2 separate regions of the Homo sapiens genome follow, and region 2 is linked to region 1. A link means that fine-mapping ties the variant in region 1 to the expression of a gene that starts in the linked region. Tissue or cell type: whole blood. Region 1 holds a variant in brackets; the other region holds the start of a gene. All regions are shown on one strand. Distances are between the middles of the regions.

The links. PIP is the estimated chance that this variant, and not a neighbour inherited with it, causes the effect.
Region 2: KLHL5 starts here. The variant in region 1 is fine-mapped to the expression of KLHL5 in whole blood (TOPMed, PIP above 0.99).

Annotation. Positions count from the first base shown.
Region 1 is chr4:38,956,230-38,961,385 of GRCh38, forward strand. No RefSeq gene overlaps it. Among named protein-coding and RNA genes, the nearest start is that of TMEM156, 74 kb to the right of the region's middle. The variant T/C (reference allele first, on the strand shown) is at 2,413.
Region 2 is chr4:39,060,026-39,065,181 of GRCh38, forward strand. It overlaps KLHL5 (kelch like family member 5), which reads left to right and starts at 2,207. Exons shown (of 11, transcript NM_015990.5): 1 at 2,207-3,010. The coding sequence starts at 2,628.

The DNA of each region.
Region 1 (5,156 bases):
CTTTGTTCTGTGTGCTCTCATAGCGACTAGCCAAACAAGAAGGTCCCCTCTGCACAGAAGGAAATTTGCTTTGTTAAGAAATCCTTTTGTCTAAGTACTCATTTTCCTTACGACTCCGAGCTTTTTTTCAAATATCTAATCTTCTCTTCTGTCACCTCCTGATATGGTTTGTACCCGTGTCCCTACCCAAATCTCATGTTGAATTGTAATCCCCAGTGTTGGAGGTGAGGCCTGCTGGGAGGTGATTGGATCATGGGGCAGAGTTCTCATGAATGGTTTTGCATCATCCTCTTGGTGTTGTTCTCATGATAGCGAGTGAGTTCTCCCGAGATCTGGTTGTTTAACCGCCCCCCATCTCTTGCTCCTGCTTTTGCCGTGTAAGACACCCACTTCCCCTTCACCTTCTGTCGTGATTGTAAGTTTCCTGAGGCCTCCCCAGAAGCAGAAGCCACTGTACTTCCCATACAGCCTGCAGAACCATGAGCTAATTAAACCTCTTTTCTTTATAAATTACCCAGTCTCAGATATATCTTTATAGTAATACGAGAATAGGTTAACACACCTCCCTACTGCGCCTGCTTCCCCATCCATCCCATCCCAACCAGCAGAGTCTCTAGAAGACATCCTGTGTGATTTCTGTCTCTGATGAAACTGCCGGCACTAAAACATGTCATTGAAAGAGGTCTTTTTTGCGTACGTTGATCTAATTCTTCTGTAAAGAAGCAACAATTACTAAATCTGGAGAACTTTTCTTCTAGCATGAGTCTAATTGTCAGAATAAAGTTAGTAGAAATAAAGTAGACAATTTTTGTTTTGTTTTGCTTTGTTTTGTTTTGAGATGGAGTCTTGCTCTGTCACCCAGGCTGGAGTACAGTGGCACAATCTCGGCTCACTGCAACCTCCGCTTCCTGGGTTCAAATGATCCTCCTGCCTCAGACTCCTGAGTAGCTAGGATTACAGGCGCCTGCTACCACGCTTGGCTGATTTTTGTATTTTTAATAGAGATGGGGTTTCGCCATGTCGGCCAGGCTGGTCTCAAACTCCTGACCTCAGGTGATCACCCGCCTCAGCCTCTCAAAGTGCTGGGATTACAGGCATGAGCCACTGTGCCCGGCTGACAATTTTTTAAGTATCCTTTTTTTCCTACTGAATTGTCTACACTGAATAAAGACTAACACAAGAAAAATATCTCACTGTGATGTAATCGTTAAGCACTGTTGTTTTGTTTGACATACTGGAACTTTGTAATGCTAAATTGCTTAAAAAGAAGCCCTACATTGTTTGCCAAAATAAAAATGGAACAGAGATGATTTCCTTTCTCTCTGTAGACAAGAAATTTCAAGTAGAAAAACGTGTTTTGAACCCAGCAAGGGGAAAGGGGACTTTCCAGAGACTCAGTCCATGACTTTTTCTTATCATTGCTTGGGTGTTTTTGTATTGTAACTAATTTTTTTTTTTTTTTTAACCACAGAGGATCTCGACATGGCTTAAAAGAATTTCTCTTAAAAAATCAATTAACACATTGCTTATTGATCCTATTTTATGAGCATCCAAAGCAAAAAGCTTAATTCTGTGCAATTCTTCTCACAACTACCAAATAATTGAGTTCTTTGAGGTACTTTGTTACATGGGTACAGATGAGAGCATGTTTGTTGTGTAGCGAACTTGTGGTAGAGTACGGTTTATAAGTAGACCTTCCAAGCATTGTTGAGATCAAGAGATTCGCAATACAGAACTCTCTACTAGAAGTGTTTATGAAAAGGTATTTGTCTGTATTGAACAATCTTTTTTTCCTAAGAAAAAGATCATAGCCAAGCAAGGTAGCTCACACTTATTATCTCAGCACTTTGGGAGGCTGAGGCAGGAGAATCACTTGAGGTTGGGAGTTCAACAGAAATGATTCACTTTTACCTCCATGATTCAGCGATTAAGATGCAACAGAGCAGTGGGTTAAGAGCACAGACTTTAAAACTAGACTGCCTGGGTTTGAATTTCAATCCTGCCACTTAAAAGCTGTGTGACCTTGAACAAGTTTCTTAACCTCTCTTTGACTTAATTCTTCACTTATAAAAAGGGGTAATAATAATGGTACTTACCTCCTAACCTTGTGAGGAGAATATTAATTCATTAATTAATACATGCTAGGTGCTTCATATGGTACCTGGCACATAGTCAATACTGTTCTAAATTCCCTTCCAAACTCCTATCCCAACCTTGGGCTATTTTTTACAGTGGTTGCATGAGCTATGGCTACCCTAAAGCAGCTGAAAATGTAGAGCAGCTATATATCCTTTAGTGTGAGTGAAGGGAGATCCTTTCCCAATATACACAGCTTACAAGGGGCAGACTTAGAAATGGTAGATAATCACTTTCAGAACTCTAGCCCATATGTTTCCCTAGAGCAAACCACTT[T/C]CTTTCCAAACATGAATTTCATGTAAGAGAATAAACATTTACAGATAGCTGGAAAGAAGCAAGGCTCCATATAGGGACATAAACTAATGCCTGTCTTTGCCAGATACCAAGTCCCTGAGAGGTCTATCTCTGAAACAAGCCTTTAAACTATACAAAGCAAACTGTCAGTCTGGGGGGGAAATGAGGATTTTAAAGTCACTATCTCCTATTAAATATTGCAGATAAACACACACAGAGAGAAAAAGAAGAGAAGTTGTGCTTTACACTAAAAAGAGACTTAGGGGAAAAAAGCAGCCTGCACTACCCTAGGGAAAGGAGACCTTGTCTTCTTTCCAAGTTCCATCATTGACAACCTCTGTGATGTGATCTTGGGTGAAACCCTCAACCGCTGGGGGCATCAGCTTCCTCAGCTGTAAAATGAGGGAGATGAACTAGATCTATAAGATTTCTTACAGCTCTGACATCCTATGACTTTATAAAATAAAATAGATGTTAAATGTATCCAGCAGGCAACAGAAACTAACTCTGGAAACGTACGCGGGAAAAGGATATTTTTGCAAGAATATCACTGGTAGCCCACAGAATCAAAGGGAAGCCTGGAGAACCAGGTTCAGAACTGATGTGGTTTGGCTGTGTACCCACTCAACTCTCATCTTGAATTGTAGCTCCCATAATTCCTACATGTCATGGGAGGGACCCAGTGGGAGATAATTGAATCATGGGAGCAGGTCTTTTCCATGCTGTTCTTGTGATAGTGAATAAGTCTCACGAATCTGATAGTTTTAGTAAGGGGATTTCCCCTGCACACACTTTCTTGCCTGCCGCCATGTAAGACGTGACTTTGCTCCTCCTTCACTTTCTGCCATGATTGTTAGGCCCCCCCCAGCCACGGAAAACTGTGAGTCCATTAAACCTCTTTCCTTTATAAATTGCCCAGTCTCGGGTATGTCTTCATTAGCAGCATGAGAACAGACTAGTACTAGAACCAAGGCAGTTTGGTGAGGATAGGGGATGTGTTTGGGGTTTAGAGGCAGGAATAACTGAACTATGTTACTGAAGTGAATGAGCTTCATTTTTTCCACCCTTACCTCACTGAATCCAAAACTCAAAGTCCTAAGATAGAGGGTCAAATTAGTCTAGCTCAAGTCACATGCCACTCATTGGCTGGTGGGCAAGAACCCTTGATTAATAGTCCCACCAAGACATTGTTCAACCTGTGAGAGGTGATTCCCTAAGAGGACATTGGGGTATGATTATGAGAAGTGCACTGACTACTGGGCAGCTCTTCACTACAAATGTTGTGTCTGTCTTTGTGATACCACACATTAATAGAACTTTTCTAAGTCAAAATCGATGGACTATTTTCACAGCCCATCTGAAAACAGATGTAACTTTGGATAGAGATATTGGCCCCATGACAACACTGTATCCATACACAGATGTGACCACCCATCACAAAATGTTAGACAATGACACATGCTTGCAGAACAGCCTTCGCATGCCTCAAGAGATTGTTCTGGGGGGAAAAAACACAAGTCTGTGTTTTGTTCTAAATGTTTCTCTCGGCTGGGCACAGTGGCTCACACCTGTAATCCCAGCACTTTGGGAGGCCAAGCCGGGCAGATCACAAGGGCAGGAGTTTGAGACCAGCCTGGCCAACATGGTGAAACCCCGTCTCTACTAAAAATACAAAAACTAGCTGGGCATGGTGGCGCTCACCTGTAATCCCAGCTACTTGGGAGGCTGAGGCAGGAGAATAGCTTGAACCCAGGACGGGGAGGTTGCAGTGAGCCAAGACCATGCCACTGCACTCCAGCTCTGGGCGACGGAGCATGACTCCATTTCAAAAAAAAAAAAAATTGTTTCTGTCTTTGCACATCTCCTTGGATGTGAGAAGGAACATTCACAGAGGCACCCAAGAGTCATTTTCCTCTTCTTCCGTGTTTACAGAGCCCTGTTTTTATTCTGATGGTCAATTCTCCTCCCCAACTTGAGAATCAGGTTAATCCTGATTGGTTGTAATTAGTCATGATGGTCCCATACCCCCTGCCATTGGGTGGTTTAAGGGTAGCTCTGTGACCTTGCTCTAGATGCTCTGACATGAGAATAAATCTGCTGGGGATGGAGGAGACTCCTTGTAAAGGTTTCTTCACTTGGATAGAGGACATTGTGGCTATAGGTGTGGTGGCTCATGCCTGTAATCCAAGCTACTCAAGAGGCTGAGGCAGGAGTATAGTTTGAGCCCACGAGTCCGAGACCAGCCTAGGTAACTAAAAAAGAAAAATCAAGGTGTAAAGATACGATGATTGGGCTGGGTGCGGTGGCTCATGCCTATAATCCCAGCACTTTGGGAGGCCAAGGCGGGTGGATCACGAGGTCAGGAGTTCAAGACCAGCCTGGCCAACATGGCGAAACCCCGTCTCTACTAAAAATACAAAAATTAGCCAGGAGTGGTGGTGGGTGCCTGTAATCCCAACTACTTGAGAGGCTGAGGCAGGAGAATTGCTTGAACCCCAGAGGCGGAGGTGACAGTGAGCTGAGGTCGCGCCACTGTACTCCAGCCTGGGCGACAGAGCAAGACTCCATCTCAAAAAAAAAAAAAAAGATGTGATGATTGTTGCTGCTATGGCCCCACCATTTAATATAATCTTTCCTTGAAACCATGAGAAGGGAAGCATGAACACAAACACCAACAATCTGAAGATGGCAAAGAGGAAAGAGAAGAAAGAACTTGAGTGCTTGAT
Region 2 (5,156 bases), 100 kb after region 1:
AACCTGAAATCAACCTGAATGCCCATTAGCAGGGAGATAGTTTAATAAATTGGTTTTTTTACAGTAATGAAATATCATGTAACTCTTAAAAAGATTATTAATTTATATTTCCATGTATATATAAAATTAGGTGAGAAGAGCAAAATGCTAAAAGATGAATACAATATGATCTCTTGTATAACAATAGCAAATCTCTTATATATGTGTATATAAGTTTGTCCATGATTTATAAACATGGAGAGAGGTGTGAAAGGCTATATGTACCAAGCTTGGCGTCAGCAATGATTACCATGGGAATGAGTGGAGGAGGATTGGCAAAATAAAGGTATCATTTTTCATTGCCAGATGTTTGCTGTCTCTGGCCCCTGCACACTCAATGCCTATAGCACTCTGGTCATTCCAACAACTAAAAATCTACCACCACCACCACCACCACCACCTATTTTCCAGAAGCCTTTAGGAGCAGGTTGATGCTTCCCTTGTTGAGAACCAGCTACTTAGAGTAACTGAAGTGTTTACAAAGATGATAGTGCCTGAGCTAAATCTTGAAGGATGAAGTGTGTTTTTTAAACCAGAGTTTCTCTGGGAGGCAAACAGTGTTATAAAAGAGGGAACACCATAATGTAGACTGCCTTGACCAATGAAGTGGTGTGTCTATGTTGGAAAATGGTTAGAAATAAAGTTGGATAGCTAGAGTGAAGTTAGAAGGATGTTGATCAGAAGGAGTCTGACAAAGGTGAGAGGAGAGGGGAAAGTGTCATTTCACTCTCTAATGCGTCCTGCACAGTACTGCCAAGTTAATTTCCTAAAACATTGTCCTGTTCAACAGTCCATTCAATAATGTCTTTGCTGCTTGCTCAAGGCATTTTATCTCATCGTATTCATCTAACTTTATCTCTTACTACACCTTAAAATTAATTTGGTATGGCTGGCTGATCAAACTGATTATTTCCCACTTCTTCCTTGTAGATATGCCCACTTCATGCTTTTATTAGAATCTTTTTCTGTAGAAATCTATCATTCTACCTAAACAATGTTTTACTATTCTTAGCAGCCTTCTCCCTAATGAAACTGGCCCATACCACTCCATTGCCATCCTGATATCTCCTTTCTTTCTTACAGTTTGTATGGTTTTTCCCGTATTATTTAGCATGAAATCATACTTGGCTTTTTATGCTTCTCATTCTTGTTTCTCTGAATAATTTGTATTAAGATAGACACCTCACAATATTTTTGTAAGCCTCCAAAGTAGTTTTTGTTTTTGTTTTTTGGTCAGCTTAGATAGGCATTGCCTTTTGTATGGAATTAGTTGATAAAGGAGTAAATACTGAGCACCCTGAAAACTCAAATTCTGCATTGATAGATCACACTTTAATATTGCAGCATTTTAATGTTTCTTATTTTACCTTATCAAATATTTTGTATTTGGTTCAATAGCTAGATTTAATTATTTTGGGGGTTAGGAACCAAGATATATATATCTCTGTGTCCCTGACAATGCCTAGTAGATTGCATTGTTCACAATAACTACTCAGTATTTTTGAGTTTATTTGTATTTGCTTTATCAATTTGCCTTAACTGTAACCATGTTCAAACCATTGTTTGTTTTGCTAACAACAGAGGGCACCATTAGGGCACTTGTACACCCAATAGTCCTATCCCAGTCCCTGGTAGCTTTTTTGAGCCGCACTTTTCCTTTTCCTAAGTAATGTCATAGAAATTTGGATGTTACACTAACTGGCAGTGGCCCATTTCTACTTATAGAGAAATCCTGGCCTCAGTTTATTTGAAAAAGAGTATTTGTTACATTTTGATCCTTTGTAGTTTTCAAACTTTTTATTCTCCTCATTATTCTTTATCCAAGTGAAATCTTACCCAGGATCTTACTGTATTAATTAGATCCATTTGTTTTCTGAAGGGAGAAGATAGAGGTGAAGGCAATAGTCTGGAGCCCCACCTTTGTACTCCGCTTTCCTCCTCATTCCCCATCCAAAGAGCACACCTGGAAAATCACCATAACTCATCTAATTTTACAAATGCTTTTTTAAAAACTTGTTTTGTGGTATTTCACTTAGGGACTTAGTTTAGAAATAGAAACATTTTAGTTTTAAAGTGATTATTTTTAAGTACAAAGGGAAATGCTATAGAATACATTTATTGTTTCAGCAATGAAAGAGTTAATATACTAAGCAGCAGAGACTGAGATACTGCAACGGGGATAGTGTTTTCTGTCTCTGTCATTTGTGGTTTAAGAAAAAGGGGGTGGTGTTCTGCATTTGAAAGGACTTTAATGAATGCTGTCAGTGTTTGTGAGACCTAATGGTCAGTATGGGAAAGGAGAGCCGGGAAAGTGGTCTAGCTGCTTCAGGATAGGTGGATGAGAGTTTGCTCTGATTGAACGGAATGTTCCACCGTGTTTCATCTTTATTCATTATCCTTTGTTCTTTAAAATCTGATATATTGGCATAAAAGTAATTGTAGATATATATATGAATGTGATTTATTTTCCTTTACATATTTTTGTTGTGTACAGCAGGGCATATACTTCTCTTGTCTTGGTTGGATGCACAAATCTGTGTGCAGTGCTTTTTGCCCGTTGCCTAGACGATCACTTGGTTTCTCTGAGGATGTCTGGTTCTCGTAAAGAGTTTGATGTGAAACAGATTTTGAAAATCAGATGGAGGTGGTTTGGTCATCAAGCATCATCTCCTAATTCTACAGTTGACAGCCAGCAGGGAGAATTTTGGAACCGAGGACAGACTGGAGCAAACGGTGGGAGAAAGTTTTTAGATCCATGTAGCCTACAATTGCCTTTGGCTTCAATTGGTTACCGAAGGTCCAGCCAACTGGATTTTCAGAATTCACCTTCTTGGCCAATGGCATCCACCTCTGAAGTCCCTGCATTTGAGTTTACAGCAGAAGATTGTGGCGGTGCACATTGGCTGGATAGACCAGAAGTGGATGATGGCACTAGTGAAGAAGAAAATGAATCTGATTCCAGTTCATGCAGGTTGATTATTTTCTTACTGTTAGAAAAGGGGTGTGGGGGTATGGCTCTATAATGTTTTTAAATAATTTAGTATTTATTATTTAAAATCTGATTATATATGTACATCTGCATACATATATATAATATCTTGGTATGAACATGTGATACTTCTGCTAGGGTTTTTTTAATGTTCTAATAGTCTGTAAAATTACAAAGACAACAAATAGCATTCATTTTGAAATATCTTGTGTTCTATATATAGATCTGGCTCAGCTTTGAAAATAATATATAGTAGCAATTTCATGTATCATTGCCTGTGGTTTGCTTCATTCATTAACCTTCTATATTCATATCAAAACTATAGAAGATATTTCTATAGTATGAAATTTTATGTGACATTTTAGTTTATAACAGATGATAGAGTCATTTTTTAATTTAATGAAAAGGAAAGGTTTTGCAAAGAGATGCACATTATAGTCACCAATTTTTTGACACAATTGTAGTTGTCAATAATATTTTTCTTATGGTTATTTCTCTTTGTCCTGTCTGTGTTACAGCTCTCCAGACTAATATAGAGAATACTAAGTAACATGTCTCTAAGATGACAGCTACTAATTCCTGTTACCTTCACTTTCACTGAAATGTGTGCTATTTAGGGAAATGAAGGACATTCCTCCAGGAGAGTTTAAGGGAATGTAGAGGGGCTAGATGTGATTATCTGGTGAAAAGGGGACAGGAAGAAGGGGAAATCAGTTAGAAGAAAGAAAATAAGGAAAAAAATAGGTAATTTCATAGTGACTTTATCTACCTTTATCTTGGAATCTGCCTTTATCTTTGAAATGGATTTTCTTATTCATCAGTTTAAACTACAATAAGATTATATAACAACTTAGAGCATGAAAGTCATCTTTCTGATTAATCTTCATTCGAAAATATTTCTAAATATTTAAAGGCACAAATAGCTTATCATTTGTCTAATTTGATTATTATATTTTTCTCTTAAAATTTCTGTGCAGCTTTTGATAACACTTGTAATTTGTAAGTTGGTTATTAATGATGTAGGTGTCATATGGATTGAGACAAAATGAATTTATATATTTAAGTGTCTCTTACTTGAGGATATTTACCACCTTTTCCTCTTCTAACCTTAAGAATGTGGACTTGGAAGGATAAAAAATGTTTACTCTAGTCATCTGTCATCTTCTGTGTAATGGAGAGAGGGGAATATCTGTATGTAGGTAAATAGTGTATTTAATTTAAATTTTTTTTAATTAGTTCATGACTTGGCATTATCTTAAGGGAATAGAAGCCACTAATTTAATTTGGAGATCAATTGAGCTAATGTGGTTCATTGTTTGTATTTTCTTTGGAGACTTGTTGCCATAAAGAGAACAATTTATATAGTAAAAGATTCATCATTTTTGTGGAGAACCAAAGAGTAAATGTTTCATTTGAAAATCAATATATCAAGAATATTTTAACAAAATTAGAAAAAATAAAACATTCATTTACCAACATAAGTAAATTCACATATAAAACTCTTAACATGTTATCTACTACTGGAGAAATTATAATGTGAATATAAAATTTTTATACATGTGTAATCTTGGAAAAATTATACACACATTGGTTGCTATAATTCCTTACAACAAAGGTAGTTTGCATGGCTAATGATTACTGAAATAAAATTAAGCTATTCTTTAGTATGCATACAGAAATATCTTGGTGGGCTATTCATTATGAAATAAAAAGATTATCCTTTTTTGACTGAGAGATTGCTATGTGCATTCTTCAAGAATTTTAAATTGACGTTTTTCATTTATAGGAGATATAAAAATAAAATGGCATTTTTAAAAATCTAAAATAAATGAAGTTGTTTAAAAAATGCTACTCAAGAAGACTCATCAAAGTAAGACGGGTGTGGACAGTTTACATCTTCAGTGACCAAACTATTCCAAAAATAAAATTTCAAAAATAAAATGTACTGTGAGAAAATGTTTTTGATTTTTAGATATGAGGGGAAATATGTCAAAGGAATTTAATATTTTGGATGGTTTGAAATTTCAATCTTCTTATTGCAAATAAGAAAAAAACATTCAAGATTTTAGAAAAGTCCTTTGTGTGTATATTCTTTTTCTCTATTTTTTTCTAGATTAAATAGATCTAA